Linked DNA regions of Homo sapiens: regions 2, 3, 4, 5 and 6 are each linked to region 1. Evidence: fine-mapped QTL for protein levels in blood plasma. Region 1 holds a variant in brackets. A gene starts in each other region. All regions are shown on their reverse strands.

Region 1 (4,855 bases):
CAAGGAGCCCTTTGTGATGTGTTTGCTCTGGGGAGAGCTGTGAGGAAATGAGAGGCCCTAGGTCATCGGAGCCCATGACTGCTAATGGAGTGGCCCAGGTGCTGCAATGACCTTCCCTCCTGAAGGGCAGGAGAGAACTGACTCCACTTAGAGGCGACAAAGTAACAATATGGCAACTTCCAGACTGTGGGTGAAACTAGCAGAGAAGGTCCCCAAGGCATTTGACTTCTGAGCCCCCTTCATCAGGGAAACCAGTGCCTGGGACCTCGTCTGCCATACAGGAAGCTTCATCATCACCCCATCTAGGAAGTCTCCCCTGACTGCTCAGGCCAGGGTGCCTGCTCCACCTCTGTGGCCTCACAGCATCTGTGTTTTCCCCATCAAGGCCCTCGCCTCAAAGAATTACATCTGCTACTTATTGCTTGTTCTCTACAGAGAGCATCACAAGGGCAGTGGCTGATCTCACTTGCACTCCTGGGTCCTCTAAAGAGACTGCCAGAATTGACAGCACTCCCCTCTGCATCCAAATCCTTACCACAGGCTTAAGAAACAATCACTGCCGCTCGTCGAATCTCAGTTTTTCCATCTGTTAAATGGGGATGGTGAAAAGATCTACCCCTCTACACTGTTGGGAAGATAAAATGATGTTTGCAAGGCACACGGCCTGACACATACCTGTAGCATATACTGTGTTCCAGGCATTGTTCTAGACCCTTCTCCTATGTCATAACACCCCAATATAAGAGGTGCTTTTACAGATGGAGAAACTGAGGCACAGAAAGGTAGAATAACTTCCTCAAAGCTGCCCAGTGAGTAGTGGTGGAGTCAGCAAATGTTTTCTGCAAAGGCCCAGATTATTAATATTCCAGATCCTACAGGCCAGGCAGTCTCTGTTGTAACTACTCAGATCTGCTGATGCAATGTGAAGGCAGCCACGTGTTAACAAATGGGAATGACTGTGTTCCAATAAAGTTTTATTTATACAGTCAAACAGCAGGCCAGATTTGGACTACAGGCTATAGTATGTTGAAATCCGCTTTACATTGCGCTGTACTCTAAGCAAGAGGCAGATGTGTTCATTATTATTATCAGACTATTAGTTTTCTCATTCTAGTCCAATGCCTGGAACAATTAAGTTCTTAACAAATAGTTTTTGAGCCAGGTGCAGTGGCTCAACCTGTAATCCCAACACTCTGGGAGGCTGATATGGGAAGATCACTTGTGCCCAGAAGTTTGAGACCAGCCTGGTCAACATAACAAGACCCTGTCTCTACAAAAACCTTAAAACTTAGCCAGGTGTGGTGGCAGATACCTGTATTCTCAGCTACTTAGGAGGCTGAGGTGGGAGAATTGCTTGAACCCAGGAATTTGTGACTGCAGTGAGCCATGATTGCACCACTGCACTTCAGCCTGGGTGACAGAGTGAGATCCTGTCTCTAAATTTTAAAATAATAATAATAAAAGTTTTAGATTTTGAATACAATGGAATTGGAAGCACCCACTGCAGGTGGGCATAGGGTAAAGTACCCACCCATATTTCTGCTGGGCTTGCTTCCTCAGTATTACTTCTAACCAGAGAAAGGGCAAAGGGAATGCCAGGATGAAGCTGGGACAGGGATTGAGGATGCCTGGATTTTAGGATGAGCAGTAACCATGGGAACTTCAACGAGCCTTTTACAACCAGGCTTCCAATTTCTCTTTTTTTTTTTTTTTTTTTTTGAGATGGAGTCTCACTGTTTTGCCAGGCTGGAGTGCAGTGGTGCGATCTCGGCTCACTGCAACCTCCGCCTCCCGGGTTCAAGTGATTGTCTTGCATTAGCCTCCCGAGTAGCTGGGACTACAGGCATGTGCCACCACTCCCAGCTAATTTTTAGTATTTTTAGTAGAGATGGGGTTTCACCATGTTGGCCAGGATGGTCTCAATCTCTTGATTTCATGATCCACCTGTCTCGGCCTCCCAAAGTGCTGGGATTACAGGTGTGAGCCACCGCACCCGGCCCAATTTCTCATTTTCTAAACAGGATGAGTAAGGCCAGTTCTGCCTACTTGCCAGGGCTCCTCTGAGCTGAGAGGAGACAGTGCTTTACGCATCTTCTGCAATGTGACTTTGATGAAAACTCCTCTTAGGACACTGGTGGGATTTAGTCCTTGCAGGGTCAAAGCCCCAGTCCCATTCTCATCTAATCTCCAAGGATTGATGGCAGGAGACTTGGCCATGGCCATTGCTCTGGAAGGAGGGAGACTCAGGTTGCCTCTAGGCCTCTATTAATGATGCAGCCACAGTCTGTGCCTGGAAATATGCAGCCCAGTGCTGGTCCTAGTCAATCATTGACATTGCATTCA[C/T]ACCTCAGTTGTCACCGTGTCCTCTGGCACAGAGCCAAGCACCAAAGGAGGTCCCTGACAAGGGCAGTGCCTGATCTGCAGGCACAAAGGAATCAACAATTTGCAGAGTTCATAACTACCTCGGTCCCACAGGGGCCAGAGGGGCAAATGGAGCTCACACGTCCCCAAGAAGATGGCCCAAGATCAAGTTTCCTCAAGCCAGCTTCCCTGATGATTCATTCAGCCCATTCATTCATTCTAGAAAGATTTCTTAAGCATCTACTATGTGCCAGGCATTACAGGAGCTTACTGGGAGCTCACACTGAACAAGCTAGTGAAAAATCATTCTAATAATTTCAAGAAGGGATAGACTCAATGAAGAAAATAGGGTAGCTCGGCTGGGCACGGTGGCTCACGCCTGTAATCCCAGCACTTTGGGAGGCCAAGGCGAGTGGATCACGAAGTCAGGAGTTCAAGACCAGCTTGGCCAAGATGGTGAAACCCCATCTCTACTAAAAATACAAAAAATTAGCTGGGTGTGGTGGCGGGCACCTGTAATCTCAGCTACTCCGGAGGCTGAGACAGAGAATTGCTTGAACCCAGGAGGCAGAGGTTGCAGTGAACTGAGATCACACCACCGCACTCCAGCCTGGGCAACAGAGTGAGACTCCATCTCAAAAAAAAGAAAAAAAGAAAAAGAAAATAAAAGAAAAGAAAATAGAACAGGTCATAAGACAGAGAGTGATTGGCTAAAAGAAAAGAAGAACCAACTGAGAATTGAACAGGCAGAAGAAGGCACTGCCCTTGAAGAGCTGAGGAAAGGGCAGCCCATCAGGAGGGACAAGCCAAGGCTGAAGCCAGTGTTCTGGAAGATAACTGTAACGTTGGAGTGTGGAAAGGGCAGAGGGTGGCACAAAGTGACATCAGAGCAATGGTTCTGATGACCTGAAATTTAAATTCATTTGGCAGGTTTTGTTTTTGGATATTTTCAGATTTTGTAAATCAATTCCTTTTGGATCACTTACAATATACTTTTGCCAGACAAAAGCATATAAGAGAAACCATTTGTTTCCAAGTGTGACTTATTTTTACCTAAAGATGGCTGGAAACACTGTACAGAAACTCAGTGTTGAGGCTGATATCTCAGAGGAGGGAATTACAGCAGATGTGGGGTACCAAGGTCTGAGGGTGGCATGATGCCTCCTCCTTCTCTCTTCTCTTGAAGCCACCATATCAGCTTCACATGAATTTCCATAGGTTTGACTCATTGTGGCTTTTAACATGACCTTAACTATATCTACTAAAGTTGAACATGGCATCTGCTATGACCAGAAATTCTCCTGCTGGCTATACACCCAACAGAAGTGCATACAGTGTGCCCCAGAGACATGCACAAGAATTCATTCAGAATAGCCCCAGCCGGGCATGGTGACTCATGCCTGGAATCCCAGCATTTTGGGAGGCTAAGGTGGGAGAATTGCTTGAGCCCAGGAGTTCGAGACTGGCCTGGGCAACATAGCAAAACCTCGTCTCTACTAAAAATTGCTTAAAAATTAGCCAGGTGTGGGCTGGGCGTGGTGGCTCATGCCTGTAATCCCAGCACTTTGGGAGGCTGAGGCGGGAGGATCACCTGGAGTTCGAGACCAGCCTGGCCAACATGGTGAAACCCTGTCTCTACTGATACTAAAAAATTAGTGGGGTGTGGTGGCACGTGCCTGTAGTCCCAGCTATTCGGGAGGCTGAGCCAGGAGAATCACTGGAACCCGGGAGGCAGAGGTACGGTGAGCCAAGATTGAGCCCTTACACTCCAGCCTGGGCAACAGAGCAAGACTCTGTCTCAAAAAATAAAAATTAGCCAGGTGTGGTGGTACATGCCTGTAGTCCCAGCTACTCAGGGGGCTGAGGTGGGAGGATGGCTTGAGCCTGGGAGATCGAGGCTGCAGTAAGCCACGACTACACCACTGCACTCTAGCCTGGGTGACAGAAGGATAAACTGTCTCAAAAAAAAAAAATGCCCTAAAATGAGAGCAACTAAATGCCCATTAGCAGAGAATGGACAAATAAGTTGTGGGATATTCACAGCAGTGGAAATGAATCTTCAAGTACATGAAAAACTGTGGCTGAATCTCACAAACATAATGAAACCAGAGCCAAGAACATTTATATGAAGTTCAGGAACAGGCAGACTAATGTAATCTGTTACAAGTTAAGGTGGCAATGGAATACTACAAAGCCATAAAAAGGAATGAGATCGTGTCCTTTGCGGGGACATGGATGAAGCTGGAAGTCATCATTCTCAGCAAACTAACACAGGAACAGAAAACCAAACACACTCACTCATAAGTGGGAGTTGAACAATGAGAACACATGGACACAGGGAGGGGAACATCACACATTGGGGCCTGTCTGGGAGTGGAGGGCGAGGGAAGGGAGAGCATTAGGACAAATACCTAATGCACGCGGGGCTTAAAGCCTAGGTGATGGGTTGATAGGTACAGCAAAGCACCGTGGCACATGTATACCTATGTAACAG
Region 2 (4,855 bases), not on the chromosome of region 1:
CCCCCCACACACACAGGGCAGCAGGCAGATGGCAGTCTCTACTTTTTGCGCTTTCAGAAAATCTGAAAATCCGTGGCAACTGTAGGTACCTGCTGCTACAGTCCTGGAAGAAAATGCTATGATCTCCTTTGGAGAATTGGCCTTAGTTTCTCTGTCTCCTCTAGTGTGCTTTAAGAGTATGTGGGGGGTCTTTTTGTGAGTGTATACGTGAGTATATTTATGTCTAGATGCATGTACAGATGTGCATATACATGAATGCCTCCAGTGAGTATCCTCTGAGGGCCCCCTCTGGGGAGATAAAGGATCTTCAGGGAAAGCCTGAGTGTGTGAAAACCTCCTTGGAGCCCCAGTTAGCAGTTTCTAATCTACAAGTCATTTGTGAGACACAAGGCAGGGACCCCGGGCTGCTGCAGAAGAATTTGAGGTATGAGCAATGAACTCACAAACCATCCTTCACACTGCTAAAACGCAAAAGAAAGAAGACGAAGAAAAAGAAAAAGAAAAAGAAAAGATGCCCACATGACTGTTTTAAATTTGCTGAAAGGCAGAACCGACCACAGCTTATTTCAACCATCTTTATTTTCAATACAATAAACACCTTTAGGACAAGTCCCCGGCCACTTAAAAAAGACGGCTGTCCACCAGAGGCGTTCTCACTACCTTCGTGTTTTCTCAAACACTTGTTCAAAAACACATTTAAGTGGAATGTTTTCGTTTCTGGCGATTGCATTAATGATGGGTTTGCAAACCCTGCAAGCCCAGGAGGACGGCTGGAGCTGGGGGCTGCAGACACCCGGCCTTGGCCCAGCGGCCGCCGCGGGTTGGCTTGGCCGGCGGGGGCTTGGCTCAGCCCCCTCTACATAGCTCCTCGTTTGACACCGCGTGCGTTGGCCGGGCCAAGGCTGTCGCATAGAAGTTACAGCTCAGAAAGAAAAACACACAGCGGTCAACCGCGGTGACCCTCGCGCTCAGGAGCGCAGCATCCCTGCCACGAGGAAGAACCCAGAGGCCCCGCAGAGCGGGGAGCCGCCGCCTGCCTCCAGTTCTGTCCTGAGAAGGGAAGAAAGCGCTTCTCTAATAACACTCAGGCCCGTGAAGAATCATCTGTAACCTCATCTGCTTCTTCCTCGGCTCACTTACGAGGGTCTCTGGGAGAGTCAGACCCACGAGTGGGGCCCACGACTGGCAGCCCCTTCAGCCGGCGAGAGGCCCGGGATCCGCGCGGCGCACGAGCCCAAAGCGGTCGGGAGAACACGCTCCAGGCCGGGTCCCCGTGGGCGAGGTGGGCGCCCAGTCCCGGCGGGTCTGTCTTGGCCTTGGGACAGTCCGCGGGGCGGCGCCGGCGCTCCCAGACCTGGTTCCCCACAGGCTCAGGCCCAGCAGTGAGTGCGGGACACCCGAGCGCACCCGCAGCTCCCACTTGTCCGGGGTCTGCAGGACCCCAGGATCCTCTCACAGCCGGGTCAGAGCCCCCGAGGCAGGTGGGGTCCCAGCCGGGTGGAACCCGAGGAGCCCGTCGCAGCCGCAGCAGGACCCCGGCGGGCAGGGTCCCCAGAAGCCCATCCCAGCCGGGTCCCAGGCGCGCACGCTGCGTCCTACCTGCTCCAGCCTCGCCGGCAGGCGAAGGCTCCACGGCCCCCGGGGCCACCTGCTCCCCGTGCCCAGGCGCCTGGGCCTGGAGCGGGGCGCGGGGACCCGAACCCGGCCGGCTGCAAGAGGCGGCACCACTTGAGCTCCAGGTCCCGCGGGCCCGGGCTTACCGTGAGCGCCGAGAACTTCTGAGCGGGCACCGGCGGGAGCAGCCCAGCGAGCAGCGGCAGCCAGCAGAGCTGGGGGAGCAGCATGGTGGCGGAGGTGGCGGGAGCGGGAGATCGGCCGCGTCCTGCGCCCTGGCACTGCAGCCGGGAGAGCCCAGTGGGCGAGCGCGGCTGGGCGGGCGCGTGGAGGGGCGGCTCCGCGATGCTCTCCCCACCGCTCCCGGCGGCCCGGCTGGAGCAGCTCCCCTGCAGGCACCCAGAGGTCCTCCGCGTTCTTTGCGTCCGCCCTCGCTCCTGTCAAATACCCCGGAGCTTCCCGGATCCTCCCCTCCCGCCCGCCTCTCTCCCTCCCCCTCTCCTCCCCCAGCCCCACCTCCCAGCGCCCGCTGCCGCGCCCGCTCCGCTCCGGTGCCCGCTGCGGCCCAGAGGCCTCCCTGGCGCGGGTCTGCGGAGCGAGAGGTGGAGCGGGGGCCACCAGGGCTGCGCAGTGGCCTGTCCGGGCTGTCTCTGTGCCTCCTTCCCCGCGCGCACTCTCACACACACACGTGCACACTTACACACACGCACACCCAGGCACACGCACGCACTCATACCCACGCGCGCGCACCCTCGGGGGGCTTCCAAGCACAACCACGGGACGCACCGCGCCCTCCTCACGCCCCAGGGTCCAGGCCCGGTCCGCGCAGGATCAGCCCAGCGGGACTTTTCATCCACAAAGGTTAACGCCAAGCCTTGGCCGGTCCCCAGACTCCGGGGTTCTCCTTGACCTCTGCCCTCTAAGGCCCCCTGGTCCAGCCCAGAACATTGCCTCTCAGAGGTGCTGAAGGATCAGCGGCGCTCCAGCAAAGGCAGCTGGGAACACATGTCCAGGAAAGGCTGCGCCGGGGGCAGCCCGCCTTTGGCATCTTTACACGGGGTTATCCACTGCAGGGATGGGGGAATTTAGGTCCTAAAGATCCGGGGTCTGACCTGGGCTGTAGCCTTGATCCTCTCAAGTCGGGGGAGCATGTGGTTGGGCATCATTCACAGACACATGTGGCTGTTTTTAAACAGCTCTGTCAAAGCATTTCAGGTGTTTGTGCGGGGAGCACAGGGCTTGTGGAGGTTGTAAACTCACCCACGAAGACTACGTTGGAAACCAGGAAATTTTTGCACACCCAGACTCTGGATAATATCCACTGCAGACAACATTGCTGACATAGTTTAGCCTTGGCTTATAACTTTACAGGAAAAAGCCCTAATTCTGTCTCACACAGAAAGCCAGAAGAGTGAAGATTTGTTCAAGAACAATGAATCAATTGACTTGTCAGGGGCATTGGGAAAAGCACAAAACACAGAAAATCCAAATCTGAGGTTTCATCCGATGTCTAGCCCACTGCTTTGGCTATGAACTTTGGGGGAGGGGGCTGTATCAGCAAGTTCTGGGACTGGCTGCTGAGGCAAAGGCAATGCTATTGCAACCTTTCCCACACAATTTTATCAGGAAAGTGATGTCCGTCGGGCCACGGAAAGACGGGAAAGAAATGCACCTTTTCCTGAAGGAGGGCTACTCTCAGAATTCTCCTTAAAATTCCAAAGCCCAGGGAATCTATTAAGCACTTAAACACATTCCTCCTGGTTTAAGGACTTAGAAGGAAATTATAATAAAACTCTTGAGGGACTGCTCCTGGGTCCAGAAAAACAGGTGAGCAGAGCAGCTGCAAATGATTAAGTAAATAGGAATCACTGTTAGGGAACTGCAGTGAAAATTAAAGTAAAAAGAAAATAAACACTACATACCACTAATTCTAAGATTATCCAAAGAATAAAATTTACACTCGAAGCTGACATACTTCCTTTAAGAAGTATTTGCTACTAAAGAACCTGTTTTTCACTTTCCACTTTGTTGAGAGTACTGCTCGTCAGAACTCAAAAGTTTGAAAGCATGTTCATTTATCCACCATCGTCCGCTGCAAGAATGGCAGACAAGAAGCAGACTTAATTATTCCCATTCTACAGATGAGGAACAAAAGTCAAAGGGGCCAAATGTCTTAGCCAGATCTCCTAAGCAACAAAATCATAAACAGAATGCAGATGTTAAAACCTGCAATACTGGCAAATCCATGTCACTTCCTCTGGCAATATGGAGAACAGAAGAAAATCCTTGGCCCTCCGTGCCTTGTATTCAAGAATCCCAACACGTCTTTCATGTAGCAACTCCAGAATCCTCTGGGAACTCTAGGAAGATAAATGAAATGCATTTGTCCAAAACTCTGACAGATGAGGCAGGTTTGGAGCCTTTGAAACCCCTTTCAAATCTGGAGGAGCTCATGTGTCCTGAATGCCAAATTTTAGTTTCTCAAAATTCTAGAAATGGAGTTTGGAGAGATAATCAGGTTCCATTTTTATGGAGAAAAACAATACATTTATTTAAAACACTGGGAAAGAGTTATGTCTGTCTTTTATTTGTAAGTCTCCAAGAAAGTTATTACTGGCAGGAATGCCAGAGAGCTGTCATGTTAGAAAGGATAGAAAAGTAATTCACTCAGTTCAAAGTTAAGACAGGAAGTGATCAGCTCTATACTTTCCAGAGAGTTCCTCTAGGATGCAGGAAGAAGTTCCCCTCTCTTGGAAATGTAGGTTTTTTTGTTTTTTTTTTTAATTAAAAAGTGATGCAGGGCCCATTCTAAAATGTGGCTTATGCATTCAGAATTTAAATGCCTGTCACTGATGAAAGTTACAATAAAGAACAGCAAGAGAAACTAATTACCAAAGACTCCAGCTGTTTTCACATTTCTAAACTAACTTTCCCTCTTAGGCCATTAGCAAAATGCTTTATCATGAGTATTGGCTTCCTTTTTATTTATTTTACTATGCTAAAACTGCAAAAGGATTTTATTTTCATTATAGAAATGATATAATTTAGTTATTATTTCTGGCTAATTCATGTTTAGCCAGAAAACTTTTTGTCAGCTATTTTCCCATCTCAATATGCCAAGCATAAGTTTAGTCAAATATCTCTTTGTTGATGCAGTGACTTCCAGAAATCCCCTCTGCCATCACTCTGAGTATCATCTGGGACTGAACTCAGGTCACTGTTCATACTCTGAGAATCACCC
Region 3 (4,855 bases), not on the chromosome of region 1:
ACCTTGTCCCTCTTCCTGCCTCAGTCTGTCCATCTGAGATAAGGGAACAAATTCTTCATCCATCAAACAGCAAAGACTCCCTCCTTTGCTCCTCCACCTCTCTCATCTGGCTGCTGCCTGCTTTCTCTCCAAATCTTCCTCTCTCCTTCTGGTCCTCCTCTCCCTGGCCCAGAGGAGGGGACTCATGACCTTGAAGCTGCCCTTGGTGGGCTGCCAGTCCCCCTCCACTTACCACCTCCCTGCTGATCGGTGTCTTGGGTCACCGTATTACAAACCTTCCCAGCCTGTGCTGGCATCTTCAAGGAAATAACAGAGAGGAAAAGTCACAGGGGCTGTATTCTGGATAAAGAACATCATTACAGTACCTTGGTTCTCTCCAGGTCCTATCCCTGCCTCTAATCCTCAGCATTTTCCTCTGGAGAACGGAAAGCTGAGATTCCATGCTGTTTAAGCCACCCCCTGTTCTGATAGCCTGGTGGAGACTGCAGCTCCAGCAAGCACCTTTGAGAGAGTCCCCAGCTCGCGCTCACTCAATCCTTAGAGTGGAAGAGATTGACTGAAAGACGACGAAGGGCGATACAGTGTCCAGGGAGGATTCCTCACTTTCTTCGAATCACTCAGCCAGTTGGCCTGAAAGGCAAAAGCTGAACCCTCACTATGACTCCAGCAGCCATGGGATGGCGGTGTGACCTTGGGCAAGAACATTTTTTTCTCACCGATGCTCCCTTACACATCTTTAAGATGAGCGGGGCATTTTCCTAAATCTGTAAAGTTCCTTTCCGCCTGGACAGAGGAATTGGGGAAAATCTTGCCAGGCCAGGCTCTCCCAGTCTTTCCCCAGGGCTGGGGGAGGCCCCCAGGGAGGGACTCCAAGAGGAGAGGTGAGCGCCCCAGGCTCCGGGCTTTCCCGCAGGGCAGGCTTCGGCCGGTTCGAGAAGGAAACTGCGGCCCCGGGTCCCCAGGCCGCGGGGAACAATGTCCCGGCTGTGCGTGCCCGGAAGCCCGTCATGCACCAGAGACTCGAATCCCAGCTAGGGGTGGGGACCCCCCCTTGGCTGCGTTTCAACGACGCCTTTGTCTACCCCTGGGCCGTGCGAGGGAGAGGACTGACGGATCTGGTTTCAACCGCCTTGACTTTCCCGGGGGTCCCCGGGTCCGGGGGCGCCCCTGTTCCCGGAACCCGGGCCCTCCCACCTCCTCCCAGCCCAGCGCGGCCCCGCCCCGTTCCCGCTCGGCCGCCGTGGGGTTACCATTGGGCAGAGAGCAGAAGGTGGCACAGCCCGCGCTGCAGCACTTGAGGTTGTCGGCGCATTCGCTGTCCGAGACGCACTCTTGCGTGCAGTTCTGGTCAGCCTGGAGCTCGGGGCACACGCCAGTCTTCTCTGCTCCTGTGCCTGGGAGGGGAGGCCCGGGACAGTCGAGGGTGGGGCGTAGCGCCAGCCCCAGAGGATGCCCACCTCCTGCTCCAAACCTTAACCCCAAGGAATTCTCAGTCTCTGGCCCTAGGAGTCCCCTTACAGCCCCCAGAGACTCCTTCTTCCAGACCAGGAGTCCCTGACCCCTGGGAGTACGAGAGCTCCCTAACCCTTGGCGTCGGGGCCCTCAGATCTCAGCCCTAGGGGACGCCGCACAGCTGAGCGTCTCGGAGCTTCCGAGGTCGAGGCAGAGCAGCCCCCACCCCCAGCCCACTGCAGCCACGGAGTGTCCGCGTTCAGCACAGAATCCTCCCAAATTGCAGCCATCAGTGGTCTCTCCACCTCCAGCACATTGGACCCCACACCCTAGGCTCCAAGGGTCCCCGCCACTTCCGCCCCCGGAATTCCCACTTCCCCAGCCTCCAGAGGCTACGCCTCCGCCTGGCTCCATCCTGGCGCTCGTGGCTCGGCCCCTCTAGGCGCCGGGCCTCTCCCCGCCCCACTCACCTGAGACTAGGGTGAAGCCGAACAGCAGCAGGCTGAGGAGGAGGGCGGCGGCTAGCGGGCCTAGGCGACAAGCAGGCATGGTGCTATGCCCGGGCGGGGTGCAGGTGTGAGCCGATGCTCAGGTGCGGGGATTTAACCGCGCGCGCGGGAGGGGGCGTGGGGTAGGGGTGGAGCCGAGCGGGGAAGGGGAGGGTGGAGGGCTTTGCGGGCACCGCGGGCGGGCTGCCACATGAGGTCATTTCACAATCCCCCAGGATCAGGTATCACTCTTGGCCCCGGTGGGAACCAGGAACTTAAGCAGCTTCCAGGACGGGACCAGCTACGGCCGGACCCTTGTCCACGCCTCCCTCCTGACCTCCCTCCTGGGGCCTGAGGGCCAAGGCTCAGGGCTCCTGGGTTTCTATTCCAAGACTCCGAGGTTTCTCCAGAGTGTCCCCAGTGGGCGGTTGAGGAGGATAAGGCAGGGCCCGCAGGGAGGCAGTAGAGCATGCGGGTTAAAGGGTTCGATTTGGGGTCAGCCAGATGAGAGGGCAGATCCCTCTTGATGGAGGGCTAGGGTAGTGATACAGAGCACATAGTAGGGGCTACAGAAATAGCACTTATTATTAATAAACAAACCCTCCTCATCAGAAACAGGCCCAGGAAGGTGAAGCACCTAGCAGTCTCAAGCCGTTTGGGTGTGTGTTTCTGTCTCCCTCTCTTTGTCCTACCGGCCCCTGATCAGGGCTGACTGTGCCAGGCTCTGTGCTCCTTGTCTCAAGGAATTGTCGCCGGTCCTCTGACCGGGGAGTTACTGTTATCAGCTGTATATGACAAAGGAACTGAGTGTTTAGGGATTTAGGACCGCACCTCCACCACAAGGTCCCCTGCAAAGCTGTACAAATAAGGTTTTGAACCCAGGTCTCTCCCTCCAGGCCCTTGTTTTTTCCATTCCGTCGTAAATATTCACTGGGTGCCTACTGTGTGACATATGCAGGGCAAGACGCTTGGTGAAGAGAAAGTCGTCAAAAGGGGCCCTCCAGCACTGGTCTTGAAGGGGTGACAGGGTCTGGGGTCTGACTCCCACCTCCACCACTTCCCACCTGAGGGCCCTGGAATGAATCCTTTCCTGGATCTGAGCTGCCACATCATCAGTGAAAATGACACCTATATGGGACTTCAGTGAGAACACAAATGCAACGTTCCTGCCACGGAACAACCATGTACTCACTGGGAGCATTGAGAGTAGATCCACACTGATTGACACAGGGACTCCAGGCCTGACCCATGATAGGTACTGGATACATGGCCATGAGTGCTCCACAGATAAGTGTCTCCTGTGACGAAGGAGACCAATAAGTATAAATGAAGCTTTAGAATCCAGGGGGTTAAGTGCCAAAACAGAGTTACCCAGGGAGTTAGACAAGAAGTGCTTCCTGCTCCAATGATCTGAGGTTCTAGAAGCCCCAGGAGGTCTTTGCTGCTGGAGGCTAGAGGGGCCCTGGGGCAGTGAACACTGGGATGATAGTGACAGGTGAGTAGGGTTTGGTGATGTGAGTACATCTGGCCACTGTCCCCAAAATGGATGCTGAGAACACCTCCCCCAGCTTCTCATGCTCAACTTGGGGACTGGGGACGTTATTGGGAGGGGCCAGGGCTATTTACTCTGAGCTCAGTCAACAATGAGGGCAGGAGCCAGGTGGGAACACAGCCCATAACAGGCTAGTGAAACCCAGTCTAGGGCACAAAGAGAACACTGGGGTGAGCAGCCAGTTTTTAGCCCGTGGACCCAGCTGGCTACTGTACATTCAGCCCCAGGCACTGCTGCCAACAGCTTTCTTCCGGGCCCTATTCAGCTCCCTGGGCCAGGAAACTGCCCAGCCTTGCTCCTCCCAGGCCCTTATGAGCACCCTATTGATTGGCTCTCTCTTACAGGAATACAGACTGAGGGAGAGTGGCAGGGCCAGGCAGAAGGATGGGGAAGGAATTTTCATCAGTCAATGGCATCAGATGTTTAGCTTTTGTGGTGCCAAGTTCCGTGCTAGGTATAGTTATAGATATTCTCTTTACATCATTTAAAAGGGCAGAGGCTTTAGAACCAAATGCATCCATGCCCAATCAGGGACAATGCATCCATGGCCACTTTCTGGCTATGTGACTTAGAGAAACACTTCATGTTTTGGGCCTGCATCTTCTTCCTGCATAAACTGTGTATCATCCTAACAGTCTTGGATGATTATTATAAGGGTTTTATAAGATTATTATAAGGGTTAAAGGAAAAAGCATAAATCAGAGGTTGCAAATCTGGCTAGAGCACATACATTATTAACTACACAGTATGTTTTAAATTTTTAAATTAGTTGCCAAGATTTAAAAGTAGCGAATTTCATATAAAAATAAACCTCTAGCTTCTCTTGGAAAAAGTAAAAGATCTGGCAACACAGTCCTGCAATCTTAGATATAACAACCATCAGCTAGAGCAGCAGGTCTCAAAATTGAGCATGCGTCAGAATCATTTTTTTTGTTGTTTTTGTTTTTTTGAGACTGAGTTTTGCTCTGTCCCCCAGGCTTCCCTCCCCTCCCCTCCCCTCCCATCTCCTCCCCTTCCCTTCCCTTCCCCTGCCTCCTGGGTTCAAGCGATTCTCCTGCCTCAGTCTCCCAAGTAGCTGCGATTACAGGCGCCACTACACCCGGCTAATTTTTGTATTTTTAGTAGGGACGGGGTTTCACCATGTTGGCCAGGTTGGTCTCGAACTCCTGACCTCAGGTGATCTGCCCGCCTTGGCCTCTCAAAGTGCTGGGATTACAGGTGTGAGCCACAGTGCCCAGCCTAAGCATGCATCAGAATCACTTGGAAGGCTTATTAAAATACAGATTGCAGGATCCCCATCCCCAGAGTTTTGATTAGTAGGTCTGGAACCTGAGAATTTGCATTTCTAACAGGTTTCCAGGTG
Region 4 (4,855 bases), not on the chromosome of region 1:
TTCTCAGCCAACATTCAGGAACAAGGTATAAATTCTCCAGGCAAATGAAGTCAAAAGGTCCACGTTCCTTCATTCAACAAGCAAAACAGACTTTCTGCCTCGGGGGCAGAGTGAGGCCAAGCCCACAGATTTATATGGCTTTATTTGTTTCTGATTTTAGAAATTTTCCATCAATGAATGCATTTCCCTTCACCGACAACTCCCCGAGATGCACGTTGGCACCATCACACCCATCTTACAGATGAGGAGAACAAGACTCAGGAAATCCATGGATTGAGACAGGGGAATGATCAGAAGCCAAGCCTCCCTGCTTTCAGTATCACCCGCTTTCCCCTACACAGCACTGTTCCTCACTCTCAAACACTTCCAAGATGGTAGAAGGGAGGGGATCAGGGTTGGACCTATCCCTTTGCTACCAGAAATGTGTGATGTCTTGACCACAGCTAGCAGCCAAGAGGCAATGGAATCGGGTTTTTGTTTTTGGGGTTTTTTTGTGAGATAGGGTCTCACTCTGTCACCCAGGCTGGAATGCAGTGGTGCAATCTCAGCTGTAGCCATGACCTCCCAGGTTCAGGCGTAGCTGGGCCTCTCACCTTAGCCTCTCAAGTAGCTGGGAATACTGGCGCACACCACCACGCCCAGCTAATTTTTGTATTTTTGCAGAGATGGGGCTTCACCATGTTGCCCAGGCTGGTCTTGAACTCCTGAGCTCAAGCAATCTGTCCACCTCAGCCTCCCAAAGTCCTGGGATTACAGGTGTGCACCACCGCACCTGGTCTTGGGTTTTTTTTAAATTGACAAACCATAGTTGTATACATTTATGGGGTACACTGCAATGTGAAATGTATTCTCTTAGTTGTTTTGAAATGCACACAGTTCCTGACTTACAATGGTTTGACATACCATTTTTCAACTTTACAATCGTGCCTAAGTGATAAATATTCAGTAGAAACTGTACTTTTAGTATCCATACTGTTTTTCACTTTCAGTACAGTCTTCAGTAAATCACATGAGACATTCAACACTTTATTATGAAATAGGCTTTGTGTTAGATGATATTGCCCAACTGTAGGCTAATGTAAATGTTCTGGGCATGTTTAAGGTAGGCTAGGCATGTTTAAGGTAGGCTAGGCTATGATTCTCAGGTTAGCTGTATTAAATGCATTTTCAACTTATGATGGGTTTATCAGAACATAACCTCATGGAAAGTTAAGGAGCTTCTGTATATAATACATTACTGACGATAGTCACCCTGGTGTGCAATAAATCTCAAAGCCTATTCCTTAGCAGAACTTGGTGGCCCACACCTGCAGTCCCAGCTACTCAGGAGACTGAGGTGGGAGGACTGCTTGAGCCCAGGAGTTTAAGGCTGCAGTGAGCTACAATCGCCCCACTGCACTCCAGCCTGGGTGACAGAGTGAGACCCCACCTCTACTCTCAACTTCTGTAAGTTCAACTTGGTTAGAATCCGCATATAAATGAGATAATAAAACAGAACTACCATATGAGCCATTATCCCACTTCTGGGTATATATCCAAAGGAACTGAAATCAACATTTCGAAGGGCTATCTGCACTCCCATATTCATTGCAGCATTACTCACAATAGCTAAGATATGGAAATAACCTAAGTGTCCATCAACAGACACTTGATGGATAAAGAAATTATCCATCAACAGACACTTGATGAAGAAATTATCCATCAAATTGAATGCATAAAGAAAATGTGGCATATATACACAACAGAATACTATTCAGCCTTTAAAAGGGGGAACATCTTGTCATTTGCAACAACATAGATTGAATCTGAAAGACATTGGGCTAGCTGCAATAAGCCAGGAACGAGGCTTTTTCAGGTGAAGGGATTACAGAACTTCCCTTTCCCAGGGATCTGCAGCACGGTGTGAATGAGAAGTGAAGGAAGAAGCGGTGTCAATGAGAAGTGAAGGAGGAAGCTTGGAGGGTACGGGGACTGTTGTCTCAGTGGCTCATAACCAAGGGCAGCGGGGTCACAGGCCTGGGTATTTGTCACCAGATGGGCAAATCTGGATCCTCTGGCCTGGAAAAGCTCTCAAACCCTCCCAACTCTCAGGAAGACCTCAGGGCATTCGAGCAGGGGAAGAGATGAGGCAGCAGGCCTTATCATGGGGGACATAAGGAGTGGGGGTCAGGAGTAAGGTGCAGGGTTAACAGGACTGAATCTCTGGGGGCAATGCCTTAGTTTTAAGGCTGTCTGCATTTTCACTCCGGCGCTTGGAGGGAGGGCAGGAGAGTGCAGACGTGAGATTAATCTCTCCAAAAAGGGCCTGGAGCAGAACAAGTCTTTAGAGGCCACCCTCATTGTACAGACCAGAATCCCATAATTAGTTACTTTGGAAGGCTCTAGTGCAGAGAACCAATTCTAGAGAACGGAGTGGCCACCCCCATATCTCAGCCAGACCCGCACACCCGTAGCTGGGCCAGGAGGCTGCAAACAGACTCTTAAAAGAGGGTGCACTCACCTTTTTCAGGTGGGCTTGCGCAGGGGCCGCGAGAAGCAAGCCCAGGGCGATCAGGAGGGGAGCCTGCATCAGGGACTGCATCGGGAAGGGTGGGTCAGGGCGGAGTTAACTGCAAGGTCTGTGGCGGCAGAGGTGCCTTTAAATGCCTTCCAGTATTGGTTACGCAAAGAAGCTGAGTCCAGTCACTGGCAGGTTCGCCCTGCCCCGTCCCGGCCAGAGACTTCCCGGCCGAGAATTGGACCGATTCCTCCCGGCTCCGCCCCCTCGCTCTTTTCATTGGAGCCTGTCTCTCTAGCGTAGGTGTCAAGGCCTTCCCTCTCTGGGGCGTAGGCGGAGTTGGAAGAGAAAGGGGCGGAACTGAGCGCGGCGGGGCTGAAGGCGGCTGGAACGGAAGGGAGCTTAGCACGAGGTTGGGGCGGGATCACGAGGGCGGGGCGGAGCTGCGCGCGCGGGAGGGGCGGGGGCGTGGCGCGAGGAGGGGCCGAGCGGAGTCGGGGGCGGGGCGGAGCAGAGCTCCTGGGAAGGGCGGGGCCGGGCAGGGGATGGGGCGGAGCTGTGGTTTGTGAACTCGTGCCGGGGCCGTCACCTTTGGAAGGACCTTTGGGAAACCGCGGATTCAGTGTTTTCATCCCCAAGTCCTTCCGGACAAAAATGTCAGACTCTCTGCCATGTTACGCTTCCCCATATGTGTGTCTTTTTTTTTTTTTTTTTTGCTTTGAGACGGACTCTCGCTCTGTCGCCCGAGCTGGAGTGCAGTGGCGCGATCTCGGCTCACTGCAACCTCTGCCTCCCAGGTTCAAGCGATTCTTCCGCCTCAGCCTCTCGACTAGCTGGGACTACAGGCACGCGCCACACGCCCAGCTAATTTTTGTGTTTTTAGTAGAAACGGGGTTTCACCGTGTTGTCCAGGACGGTCTTGATCTCTTGACTTCACGAATCCGTATCTTTTTAATAATTATAACCGTTATAAAAACTAACATTTAGTAACTGCTTGAAAGCATGCTAAGGACGCACAAGGGAATGCTTTTTTTTTTTCTTCCCCAATTTTAGCACTGAGGAAACTGATACACAGTGAGGTTAGCTCTGCCAAGGTCGCACAGCTAGGAAGGAATAGAGCAAGACTTCTTTTTAGACACCCCATCAGCCAAGATTTTGTCAGGTTAATATACTAGTTGGAGATTTGCTTTTAGAAAAAACAGGGATGTTGTTACCAATACCGCCAATTTACCACAGGATTGTAAACTACACAAGGGGTGGCATCATGATGCAGGCACTCATTTATACCCAGTGCCTGATGCATAATAGACAATCTGTTGAGTACATGAATGCATGTGTAGAATTTAAAACTCACCTGATCATCTTTTTTAAAGTAAACTTTTTATTTTGGTTTACAGAAAAGTTGCAAAAATACTACAAAGTTCTGTTCGTTTCCTCTATTGTTGATAAGACACCCGTGGCCTGGCCGGGGGTTCAGACTGCAGACCCAGAGCTTGTGCTTGTGCATAACTGGGGGGCACTGCCAGCGACAAGGAGGTGGCAAAAGAATAAAAAATTAAAAAATTTTTTTTAAATCTGAGGGCATGACATTGGTACACTATTATTAACTAAGCTCCATACTTTACATAATGATCCTCCCATTCTGATCAACTCTTCCCTTTCACCTAGCCCAACTGAGGTAGGAGAATAGAGTCTGCAGGCAGGGAACCTAAGGCCATTTCACGCTGACTTCCTAGAACTAAATCGAAAGGAAAACCCTAACTTTCCACACCTAAGTAACAAGAGGACCAGAGGCTACTCTCTTTACAACCCCCCACCTTTTCTGTGCAGCAGATGGGAAATTGAAAGTACATTTCGATTTCTATGCTACATTTCAGTTTATATGTTAAAATTGCATAGAAGTGCAACTTTGTAACTTCACTTCAGCCTGATTGGTTGCTTTCCACAACCAATCAGATGTTTGCACAGGAGCATGACCTTTGTAACTTCACTTCGGCCTCTGATTAACCAGTCAGACTGATTGCGGGCCACCACTTCATTTACATGAGGTGAGCACCAAGTGGCCAATGGGAAACCTCTAGGGGGTATTTGGACCCAAGAAGATTCTGTATCTGGGCCCTTGAGCTGCTGCTTGGCCCGCTCCCACACTGTTGAGTGTACTTTCATTTTTAATAAACCCTTGCTTTTGTTCTTTCATTGCTCCATTTTTCCCTTGCTTTTCTGTGTGTTTTCTCCAATTCTTTGTTCAAAAACGCCAAGAACCTAGACAACTTTCAGTCAAAACCCTCTACTGGTAACATATTTTGGCAAGCCAGCCAGGAGAGAAGGTAGGCCCAAAGCTTGGGATTTATTTTTCTC
Region 5 (4,855 bases), not on the chromosome of region 1:
GGCCCCCTACGGCTCAATGCCCAGGACAGAGGCTCGAAGCCCTTGCTCTTGACCCTTCAGGAGGCCAGACCCTCCAGCTCTGCACCTTGTTCCCAACACATCGGTCACAATAAATTTTTTTTTTGTTTTTTTTTGAGACGGGGTCTCGCTCTGTCGCCCAGGCTGGAGTGCAATGGCGCGATCTCGGCTCACTGCAAGCTCCGCCTCCCTGGTTCACACCATTCTCCTGCCTCAGACTCCCTAGCAGCTGGGACTACAGGCGCCCGCCACCACGCCAGGCTAATTTTTTGTATTTTTAGTAGAGACGGGGTTTCACCGTGTTAGCCACGATGGTCTTGATCTCTTGACCTCGTGATCCGCCCGCCTCGGCCTCCCAAAGTGCTGGGATTACAGGCGTGAGCCACCATGCCCGACCTCTTTTTTTTTTTTTTTTAAAGACAGAGTCTCCCTGTTACCCAGGCTGGAGTGCAGTGGCATGATATCAGCTCACTGCAACCTTCACCTCCCAGGTTCAAGCGATTCTCTTGCCTCAGCTTCCTGAGTGGCTGGGATTACAGGCGTGCGCCAACACGCCCAGCTAATTTTTGTATTTTTAGTAGAGATGGGGTTTCACCATGTTGGCCAGGCTGGTCTTGAACTCCTGACCTCAGGTGATCCACCCGCCTCAGCCTCCCAAAGTGCTGGGATTACAGGTGTGAGCCACCACGCCCGGCCTCACTATAAATCTTTAACCCAGAACCAAATGGGGGTCTCAACAAAGGAAGAAATTTTCTATGAAGCAAGAAAGGATGTCATGCTTTTCTCCCGGAAAAACACACCTCAATCCATTTCCCAAATGCGCTCTCCAAACCACGTTTGCCCACCCTCAACACACGGCCCTCCTAAGACAGCACTGGAAACCGAATGCGGGTCAGAGTCGGCTAAAAACGACTTTCTCACTATTTCCTGCGCTGAATCGGGTGGCCAGGGCCCCCTCACTGTGACCTTGGAACCTCGACTTCCCACAGGGCTGTTTCCTCGCCTGTAAAGGAGGAGGGGCGTTCAGAGACCACCTCATTCTGGGTGCTGAATCCAGGCAGAATCAGAGGGAGATTCCGCCTTCCCTTCCACGCAGGGCCCCTCGAGGGAGCCTGCGAGGTCTTAAGAGTCTGGGAGAACACCCGGGGGCAGGTGCACGCCCTAGGCAAGACGCCAGGGCTAAATCCCGTGAAGAACGGTAATCCCTTCCCGATCCGGAGGGCTGACCCACTCAGAGCCTCCATGTGCTCTTGGAGGACAAAAGCCCCTTTTCCAGAAGGGAGCGCCAAGATGATCGCTCCAGGCCGCACGGGCCCTTGCGGGGGCCCCAGAGAGTCTCAGGGGAGGGTCTCTGACCCTAACACTCGCAGGCAGGGTGGACCCGTCTCCAGATTCCACGCCCAGGCCGCTTTCCCCAGGTCCTGCGGAGTCCAGCCCCAGCAGGACGGGTTGGGCAGGCACCAACCAGCCCCTGACCCCTGGCTCCAGGCCAAAGGGGACGCTCACCCAGGCTTTGGGTCTCCCTTCTCCTGGCCGATGGGACCGGCGGGCGGGCCACCTCCAACCGCCTTCGCAGACGCCCTCACCCAGGAAGCAGGTCACCCCCAACCCCAGGTGACCGAAAAGCAAGACGCCCACCTCCCCTGACCAAGACCGGCCTGGCCAGGACCCCCTGGCTCCCGCCTCCAAGCAGGGAGCTTCACGCCCACACACAGAGGCCGGGCTCGAGGCCGGAGCGCCCGGGGGAGCCCGGCAGGCCGCGCCGGGAGGAACCTCTAGTCCCCCCTCAAACCCTGGGACTTCACCCCCAAGCTCCATGCTGGCGCGGGAAGCCCCCGGGGCCGGCCTTTCGCACCCCAGGCCGCCCCGCGCCGAGGCCCCAGGCTCCCGTCGGCTTCGGGTCGGCACCGCGGCCTCCATTCCCGGCCCCTGCAGGACCGCACCCCCGCCCCCTACCCGCTCCTCACCAGCCCCGGAGGCTCCGTGGGTGCCCAGCAGCGCGAATCCCAGCAGCACGAACAGCGCAGCCGCCATGATTCCTATTCCTCGCCGGTCCTACAACCTCCAACCGCTGCCGCCGCCGCCCGCGGCCGCTATAAAAAGCGGCGGAGGCGCGGACCGGGCGCGCGCACGCACGGCGTCATCTCGGGGGCGGGGCGAGCGCCGGGGACGCCGGTCGCCCCGCCTGCGCACGCGCGCACACGCTCGCATGTACGCGCCGGCTCCGGCAGGCTCACGCTACGGAATCCGGGCGGCGGCGCACGTGACCCGGCGTTGCTAGGAAACGGGAGTGGGGCCTGCGGGGACGCGGCTGGAGCCTGCGCATTTCTTCCTTCCTGCTTTCAAAGTTGCAATGAGCGCAGAGCGGTGCGCCCGAGGGGGTTGAAGCGTTGAAAGTGTGTTACCCAGATTTTATCTGAGTTAAACACGGGCCGGCCGCTGTGGCTCACGTCTGTACTCCCAGAGCCTTGGGAGGTCGAGGCGGGAAGATCGCTTGAGCCCGGGAGCTCGAGACCAGACGCGGCAACATGGCGAGACGCACATCTCTGCCTTTAAAAATGTACATATATATATATATATATGAACGTATTAATAAATTAGGTGGGAGGAAGTGACCTCCTCCGCCCAAATAAAAATACTTAAAGGGCACTTGAATCTGGATCTCAGAAAATGAATAATTTCTTAGTATAAACGTCCTGTGCACCATTTGGTTGGGACAAGTAAGTTCCTCTTCAGAAACTCAACTTCCAGGTCTAAAGTTGTCAATCAACCTTACCCCCTTCTTCTTTCCTCGCAGGTGGCGCGTTTACCCTATTTTAAAAAAGTTTTAAGTTTTAGCCAACCGGGATCAGCTTAGATTGTGGGCGTCCAACCCCAGCCAACAGGGAAAGGACAGAGGAACAGAAGCTCCCTTCCTTTGTCCCGTGTGCTCTGGAGATTGCATCCCACGCAGGCAGCCCCCTTCCGTACAAGTAAAGTGGTCTCGCTGAGAAATTTTCTAAGTGCTGGTTTCTCTTTGCGGGACCGACTCGCCGCCCCCAAATATCCCATTTGGATCCCATTCTGTTTCAGGAGAGGCTGGCGGTTACCTTTCTTGGGGAGACGCGTCCGACTGCTTCATTGTGGGGGCCTCAGGAGCGGAGGATCGGGTCCCGCCCGAGGTGACGCGTAAACCCAGACTCTCAGCAACGCGGGTAGGAAGGACCCTTGAAGTTCCGCGGCGACCACGGTGAGAAAAGTCGCTATTGGGGCGACACAGGTGGGGGCGTCTCTTGGAGGTTGAAAGTGTGTGTTGGAAGTTAAACTCGGAGTCGCAATGCAAGAGGACCGCAGACTAAGCCGAACGCGAAGGGCTAACTGGAAAGGGGCAGGAATGTGGCTACACTGGCGGGAAGAGCCCGTGGCGACGGGAGGGGGATGTGCAGAGTGGGTGGCAGGTGCCATCTCTGCAGATCAGGACCGGCGGGAAACTTGTTTACTGAGACTCAGACGGGGAGGCCCAGAGGGTGAGGAAGTCAGGTTGGCCTTGGAAGTAGGAAACGAAGAACGAGGGCGCTGAACGAGCCAAACCTTTGAAGAGGAACTTGTGAATGAATGAGACGCGCCATATCTTTTGTGTGTGTGTGTGTTGGAGTCTCGCTGTGTCACCCAGGCTGGAGTGCAGCGGCGCGATCTCGACTCTCTGCAACCTCCGCCTCCCGGGTTCAAGCGATTCTCCTGCCTCAGCCTCCTGAGTAGCTGGGATTACAGGCGCGCACCACCACGCCCGGCTAATTTTTGTATTTTTAGCAGAGACGCCCCATATCTAAAGAAGGGTGGGATCCTCTAGACCACCTTCCCCCACTCACCCCTCCGCCCCTCCCAACCCACCCCCTCCGCCCCTCCCAACCCACCCCCTCCGCCCCTCCCAACCCACCCCCTCCGCCCCTCCCAACCCACCCCCTCCGCCCCTCCCAACCCACCCCTCCGCCCCCCCCACCCACCCACCCCACCCCTCCGCCCCTCCCCAACCCGCCCCTCCGCCCCTCCCACCCACCCCTCGCCCCTCCGCCCCTCCCCCACCCGCTCCTCCGCCCCTCCATCCCTCCCCTATAGAACCACCTGGACCTTGCCACCCACATCCCCGCTGGACAGCCACTAGAACATGCCCCTTCCTCAGGAAAGCTCCAACGGGAAACAGAACAATGCCAAAGGGATATTCGAAACTTTCGGCCGGGCGCGGTGGCTCACGCCTGTAATTCCAGCACTTTGGGAGGCAGAGGCGGGTGGATCACGAGGCCAGGAGTTCAGGACTGGCAGCCTGGCCACGATGATGAAACCTCGCCTCTACTAAAAATACGAAAATTAGCCGGACGTGGTGGCGGGCGCCTGTAATTCCAGCTACTCAGCTACTCGGGAGGCTGAGGCAGGGAATGTCTTGAACCCGGGAGGTGGAGCTTGCAGTGAGCCGAGATCGCGCCACCGCACTCCAGCCTCGGCAACAAGAGCGAGACTCCGTCTCAAAAAACAAACAAACAAACAAAAACCCACAGAACTTTCCTTTTGCCTCCTGCTCAAAAAGACCTGCCTCAGCCCTTTTCCCCTTTAGGGAAGGACCACCGGGAGGAAGGGATATTGACTTCGTAAATGCCCCCTTTAACCAGTTCAGAGGTTAGAAATCTAAAAGAACTCAAACCACTGTTAGATGACCCTTTTGGATTCGCGGATCAAATTGACCAATTTCTGGGGCCACAGCTGTACGCTTGGGCTGAATTAATGTCTACCCTCAGTACTCTCGTCTCAGGAGAGAGAGAACCATGATTCACAGGCCGCTGTGTTAGTCTGGGAGCGTGAACAC
Region 6 (4,855 bases), not on the chromosome of region 1:
GAAATTGAGATATTGAAATGGTAAAATAGGCAGGAATGGCTGAGTAGATGTGAGGGAGTGGAAGAGGTCAACGTTGATTCCTAGGTTTCTGTCTTCATTTATGAAAAAAATTCAGGAAAAGCAGTCACTCTTTAAAGATGAATTCAGATTTGTGCACATTAAGTTCAAGATGTCTGTGGAACATATAAGTGGAGATGTCCAGCAGTCAGCTGGATATGAATATGAAGATAGGGGGAGTGGTCAGGGATGGAGACAGACTTTTGAATCATCTGCAAACATACATCCCAAGGTAAAAGAGTAGATACACTATAGTCTCCCAGGGAGCACACACAGCCATGGTTCTCAGTCTAATCCTGGGACACCAAATTATTAGTGGGTAAAGGAAAAGAATCTCAAGACCGAATGGTCAAGAAACCATTCTAGGGAACCAAACTAGGAGAGAGTGGCATCTCAGAAGCCAAGCGTGTCAAGGAAGGAATAGCTAACAGGATGTGTGTAAGGTATGTACACAAAAGAGCTTTGGAATCCATCTTGGGAAATATACAGTATTAGCTGTTTTAAGGAGACATGCTTTAAATATCAAAGCAAGTCATCCTGATTTAAAAAACTCCCACTTGTATAGAGGAATACCAGGATTTGAGCACCACCAAATGGAACTCATTCCCTGACATCCCAAAGCCATCAGAATAACAGTAGAAGCGTCAAGACAGTTACTATATGATTTTCCCTGCAAGACATTCAGTAATCTATGATTCCCCCTGCTTAAATTTTATCTCATGCCTTCTTCCCTGACCAGTTCAACACAAGCAGCCCTGAGATGTAATATCTTCTCACCCTGACCCTCAAAGTGTGTCTCATGCTTTCTAACAGAGGCCATCCTCTTGGAGGAAGACTTGTACTTTTGGCCTGTAGCCCCACCCTCCCTCCTATGGCGTTCTTACAGTCAGTTCTGCAGTGAGTGGGACACTTTCCAAATATAATAGCAAATGGAAACTTCTAATTACATCTGCACATAAAACTAATGTTCCAAATGGTGGTTGCGGTTCTGGTGAGTGCTTATAATTTTTTGTTACCTCAGCATCCATTTTTGAATATGTTTAACTTTTAATAACAGAAGCAAGTCTCAGTCACCATTGACAGTTTCCAGTACTATACCCCACGCAAATGGCTCTAGCTGGTGGCCAGAGATAAACATGCAGTGATGTGATAACAGGGCACTACTGCAGCTTCAAACTCTGGTTCAAGTTCCTCCCACCTCTGCCTTTTCACCTGCTTGCTTTTAAATCCACCAGTTAGAGCTCTCCAGAGGAAACCTAACTGGATAAAGTTGCTGGCCCAAAGGTCCGTTCCTCCCTTCCCTCTCCCTGTTCTCCCTGATCTCCGTGTGTGTGTGTGTGTGTGTGTGTGTGTGTGTGTGTGTGTCCTCTAGGCAAGCTGTGTACCACCCAGGGTCCGTAAGTACTAAAAACTCTTAAACTTTCACACCGCTGTGTTATTGAAACCATGCCTACAATCCAGTCCCTGAGGCGAGGCCACCCTGAAGGGACAGACTCATGCAGGCGGATCCCCTGGTCTTGCTCTTCTGTCCCTGCCTCTGGTGGCTGCTGGGGAACAGTAGCTACCAGCTAAGTTGATAGAGACACTCGAAGAGGTTCATTCAAAACACTGGTCCCCGAGCAGCCCAGTAAGCTTTTAAACGCATAACATTTTGTTTGGGTCTCAAACAAGTCACAAGGCACGGATACGGATGCGGCTGTGGCTGATGGCTATTTGGATGCTGCCCAAGCCTCGCAGTAGGAAGCAGCTTCAGACTGCAGCAGGGCCGCATAGCCCGATAGCCAGGCCCTGGGGCACCCAGGGCACCAGCAAGACGCACAGAAACGTTTTGAAAAACATTTTAATATACTTAAAAAAAAAGTAAAAGGGAAAATCAGAAGTCTTTGGAAGTTTCCTACTGTTTTTATGTCCCATAGCAAATCCGAGGAGGACGCCCCAAACTTTCAGTTCCCTGGGGTTTTGAAGGTGCTCATTGGGTCCTGGCCACCCGGCCTTCTCAGAACCTGGGCCAGGAGGCTGAGCTCCGCGCGGGGGTGGAGGGAGAGGAGGAGGTTCCTGCCGAGGTGCGGCTGCGCGGTGCGGGAGCCGGGAGCCTGGGAGGGCAAGGGCATCCTGAGGGGCGGGGCCGGGGGGCGGAGCCTTGCGGGCTGGAGCGAAAGAATGCGGGGGCTGAGCGCAGAAGCGGCTCGAGGCTGGAAGAGGATCTTGGGCGCCGCCAGGTAAGAAGGCCCGAAGGCCTGCTGGGGTTTGGGTGAGCCGAGCCGAGGTGGCGGCGGCAGTCTGGGCCCGGGCGGAGGGTCTGTGGGGGCTACCCCCGTCCTCGCTTTCCACTCGACCCCTGCCGGGCGAGCCTCCCGAGGCCTGGCCCTTCCAACCCGTCACCGCGGCCCGGTGTCCTAGCCGAACGCTGGCTTCATTTTATCTACGAGGAAGGAGAAACGGGGAGCGCGCCCTCTCCCAGAAGCAGCCCCGTTACCCCCGTCGCGCCCCCCATTCCCTCGGGGGCAGCCTCGCACCCGGGCCCCTGCCATCGCTTTCGTCTCAAGGGAAGCTCTAGCGGTCCAGAGAAACTGCGCCGGGGGAAAGGCCAGCCCTCCGTGGTCACGGCAGTTCCTCTCTCCCCTCGCGGTCTAAATGTGTAATTTTGAAAAGCAGGTGTCGGGCGAAACGGACTTTTTTTTTTTTTTGAGATGGAGTTTCGCTGTTGCCCAGGCTGGAGTGCAGTGGCGCGATCTGGGTTCACCGCAACCTCCGTGTACCGGGTTCAAGCGATTCTCCTGCCACAGCCTCCTGAGTAGCTGGGATTACAGGCATGCGCCACCATGCCTGGCTAAATTTTGTATTTTTAGTAGAAACGGGGTTTTCCCATGTTGGTCAGGCTGATCTTGAATTCCTGACCTCGTGATCCGCCCGCCTCCGCCTCCCAAAGTGTTGGGATTACAGGTGTGAGCCACCGCGCCCGGCCGAAACGGACGTTTTAAGTACAACGTGATGTTTTGTTTTCTTGGGTCGGCTCGGGCCGCACCCTTCTTAGAGTCTGACTGCTGACTTTTCAAAAAACAACATTAACCCGGGAGGCTGAGGTAGCGGTGAGCCGAGATCGCGCCATTGCCCTACTGCCTGGGCAATAAGAGCGAGACTCCGCCTCAAAAACGAACAAAACCCACAAAGAACAAACAAAAAAAACCAACATTAAGCAGTGTGCCTTTTATGGCCGTTTAGTGATACCCAGGCTCTTCACTGGTCATTTCTGGAAGTATTTAACAGCACTTGATGGGTAAAACAATAGGCTTCACTTCACAGGGTGGTTGAGATGATTGACGGAAAGCGCTCAGCACAAACGCGGCGGCTGCTAATTATTTCAGGTACCCTGCGATCCCTGAGCAGTTGTTCAAGTTCTCCACTCCTGGCGGTTTACTCCCAGTTCCCTGAAGAAGGCACAGAGCCCCGAATGTTGAGGGAGATGGCAACGTTTGCCAAAATGTGGCTATTTACGTGGCAGTTTATGAAGGAGAGGCAGAAAGGGAGGCTGCCTCCCCTACAAGCCAAACAGTCCTAAAACTTGTGGCCTCTGTATTTTCACAGTGGAAACTAGAAACTGTTTGCTGAACTTAGCTGTAAGAAAAACATCCCATTAGCTGAGTGGCTTAGGAGATAAAAGCCTAAATAAAATGGATCTTAGGGTGAGAGAGTGGGGTGCCTAATGGCATTCATCTTTGACAGCTGCTGGTAGAAGCTCTTGAAAAGTAGAGCATGGAAAATTCTGGGCCACCTCTTTAAGAACCTCAGCCAAACCGCCACAGACATTGCCAAGCCCAGAAGTGCTTGAGGCTTTCTAAAGGCAAAGACTTCTTTTTACTTATGTCCTATATCTTAGGAAACATATTCACTAAACCTTGGTTTTGCATGTGTACTTAACACGGGAGGGGCCGTGAGTGCGGAGATAGGACTCTTTGGAGAGTTAGGGATTGGCATTCCGGAACAAACTGCAGGAAAGGCCCTTGTAGGGGAAGCTGCAGATTTGTTTGGTCCAAAGAGTTCTGGCCTAATAAGTGGGAGCTGACCAATGAGAACACTTGGACACAGGGAGGGGAACAACACACACTGGCGCCTGTCGGCAGGTGGGGTGGGTGGGGATAGAGCATTAGGAAAAACAGCTAATGCATGCTGGGCTTAATACCTAGGTGATGGGTTGATAGGTGCAGCAAACCACCATGGTACACGTTTACCTATGAAACAAATCTGCACATCCTGCACATGTACCCTAGAATTTATATGTATATCACACAAAGAGTTTTGGAGTGGTTATTCCTGGCATGAGAACCTTGGCTGGATTGGAAAGCCTTTTCCGTTATGATGGTTGTTTTCTCTTTGTCTCTTCCTGCTGATGTAATTTGTTCCGTGAACTGAGTGATGGATGTTTGTCTGGGCGCTTCAACAGGCATGGCTAGAGCAGGTATTGTGTATGTCTCCAAGGTGACACGCAGACCTGGGGTTCAAAAGCTCTAGTTCTCTGACATTGCTGACACTAGGTATCTTGTGAGTTGCCAGCCCCTGGCGAATAGAAACAAGATCCATCCAGGGTGGTTTTGCGACTAACATGTTGCCTTGGGACAGGTAATTTCATCCCACTGGGCCTCCACTAATTTCCTATAAAATAAAAACATTGGGTTTTATTTTGAGGACACTTCTAGCCTTAAAATTCTTCAGTCTGTAAGGCCTCAGGCTCCTAGGAGGAGTAACCATACTCATGGGCAACTGTGAATCTTGTGGAAACACCACTGATGTCAACTCTCTT

Direction of the effects. Alleles are on the strand shown, and positions count from the first base shown. The strength of an association depends on the size of the effect and on how common the allele is.
For the plasma level of the protein whose gene starts at base 2,031 in region 2, C is the high allele of the variant in region 1 and T is the other (weak association).
For the plasma level of the protein whose gene starts at base 2,030 in region 3, C is the high allele of the variant in region 1 and T is the other (weak association).
In carriers of allele T in region 1, the plasma level of the protein whose gene starts at base 2,613 in region 4 tends to be lower than with C alone (weak association).
In carriers of allele C in region 1, the plasma level of the protein whose gene starts at base 2,091 in region 5 tends to be higher than with T alone (weak association).
As copies of C replace T in region 1, the plasma level of the protein whose gene starts at base 2,235 in region 6 goes up (weak association).

The links. A credible set is the group of variants that fine-mapping cannot tell apart. PIP is the chance, under the fine-mapping model, that this variant and not a neighbour inherited with it causes the effect. Protein levels are from antibody-based Olink assays in UK Biobank. Linkage for the fine-mapping came from a reference panel and not from the study's own genotypes, which makes the PIPs less certain.
Region 2: SMOC2 starts here. The variant in region 1 is the best candidate, but not a certain one, in a credible set for the plasma level of the SMOC2 protein (UK Biobank, PIP 0.90).
Region 3: it holds the start of WFDC2, and the variant in region 1 is the best candidate, but not a certain one, in a credible set for the plasma level of the WFDC2 protein (UK Biobank, PIP 0.81).
Region 4: GM2A starts here. The variant in region 1 is the best candidate, but not a certain one, in a credible set for the plasma level of the GM2A protein (UK Biobank, PIP 0.90).
Region 5: BSG starts here. The variant in region 1 is the best candidate, but not a certain one, in a credible set for the plasma level of the BSG protein (UK Biobank, PIP 0.53).
Region 6: CD59 starts here. The variant in region 1 is the best candidate, but not a certain one, in a credible set for the plasma level of the CD59 protein (UK Biobank, PIP 0.82).

What each region holds. Positions count from the first base shown.
Region 1 is chr16:20,378,499-20,383,353 of GRCh38, reverse strand. The region is part of intron 3 of PDILT (protein disulfide isomerase like, testis expressed); the gene reads left to right. Among named protein-coding and RNA genes, the nearest start is that of PDILT, 24 kb to the left of the region's middle. The variant C/T (reference allele first, on the strand shown) is at 2,344.
Region 2 is chr6:168,438,360-168,443,214 of GRCh38, reverse strand. SMOC2 (SPARC related modular calcium binding 2) reads right to left here and starts at 2,031. Exons shown (of 13, transcript NM_001166412.2): 1 at 1,761-2,031. The coding sequence starts at 1,844.
Region 3 is chr20:45,466,928-45,471,782 of GRCh38, reverse strand. It overlaps WFDC2 (WAP four-disulfide core domain 2), which reads right to left and starts at 2,030. Exons shown (of 4, transcript NM_006103.4): 1 at 1,923-2,030; 2 at 1,251-1,394. The coding sequence starts at 2,001. RefSeq lists silencers at 1,106-1,155, 1,176-1,365.
Region 4 is chr5:151,250,943-151,255,797 of GRCh38, reverse strand. GM2A (ganglioside GM2 activator) reads right to left here and starts at 2,613. Exons shown (of 4, transcript NM_000405.5): 1 at 2,501-2,613. The coding sequence starts at 2,581. It overlaps LOC124901115 (a long non-coding RNA gene), which reads left to right and starts at 4,613. Exons shown (of 3, transcript XR_007059003.1): 1 at 4,613-4,824. RefSeq lists a silencer at 2,653-3,002.
Region 5 is chr19:569,832-574,686 of GRCh38, reverse strand. It overlaps BSG (basigin (Ok blood group)), which reads right to left and starts at 2,091. Exons shown (of 9, transcript NM_001728.4): 1 at 1,986-2,091. The coding sequence starts at 2,052. BSG-AS1 (BSG antisense RNA 1) reads left to right here and starts at 2,439. Exons shown (of 3, transcript NR_184018.1): 1 at 2,439-2,578; 2 at 3,091-3,247. RefSeq lists silencers at 1,751-1,930, 2,101-2,320 and enhancers at 3,141-3,190, 3,271-3,843.
Region 6 is chr11:33,733,803-33,738,657 of GRCh38, reverse strand. CD59 (CD59 molecule (CD59 blood group)) reads left to right here and starts at 2,235. Exons shown (of 4, transcript NM_000611.6): 1 at 2,235-2,276. RefSeq lists a silencer at 2,117-2,586.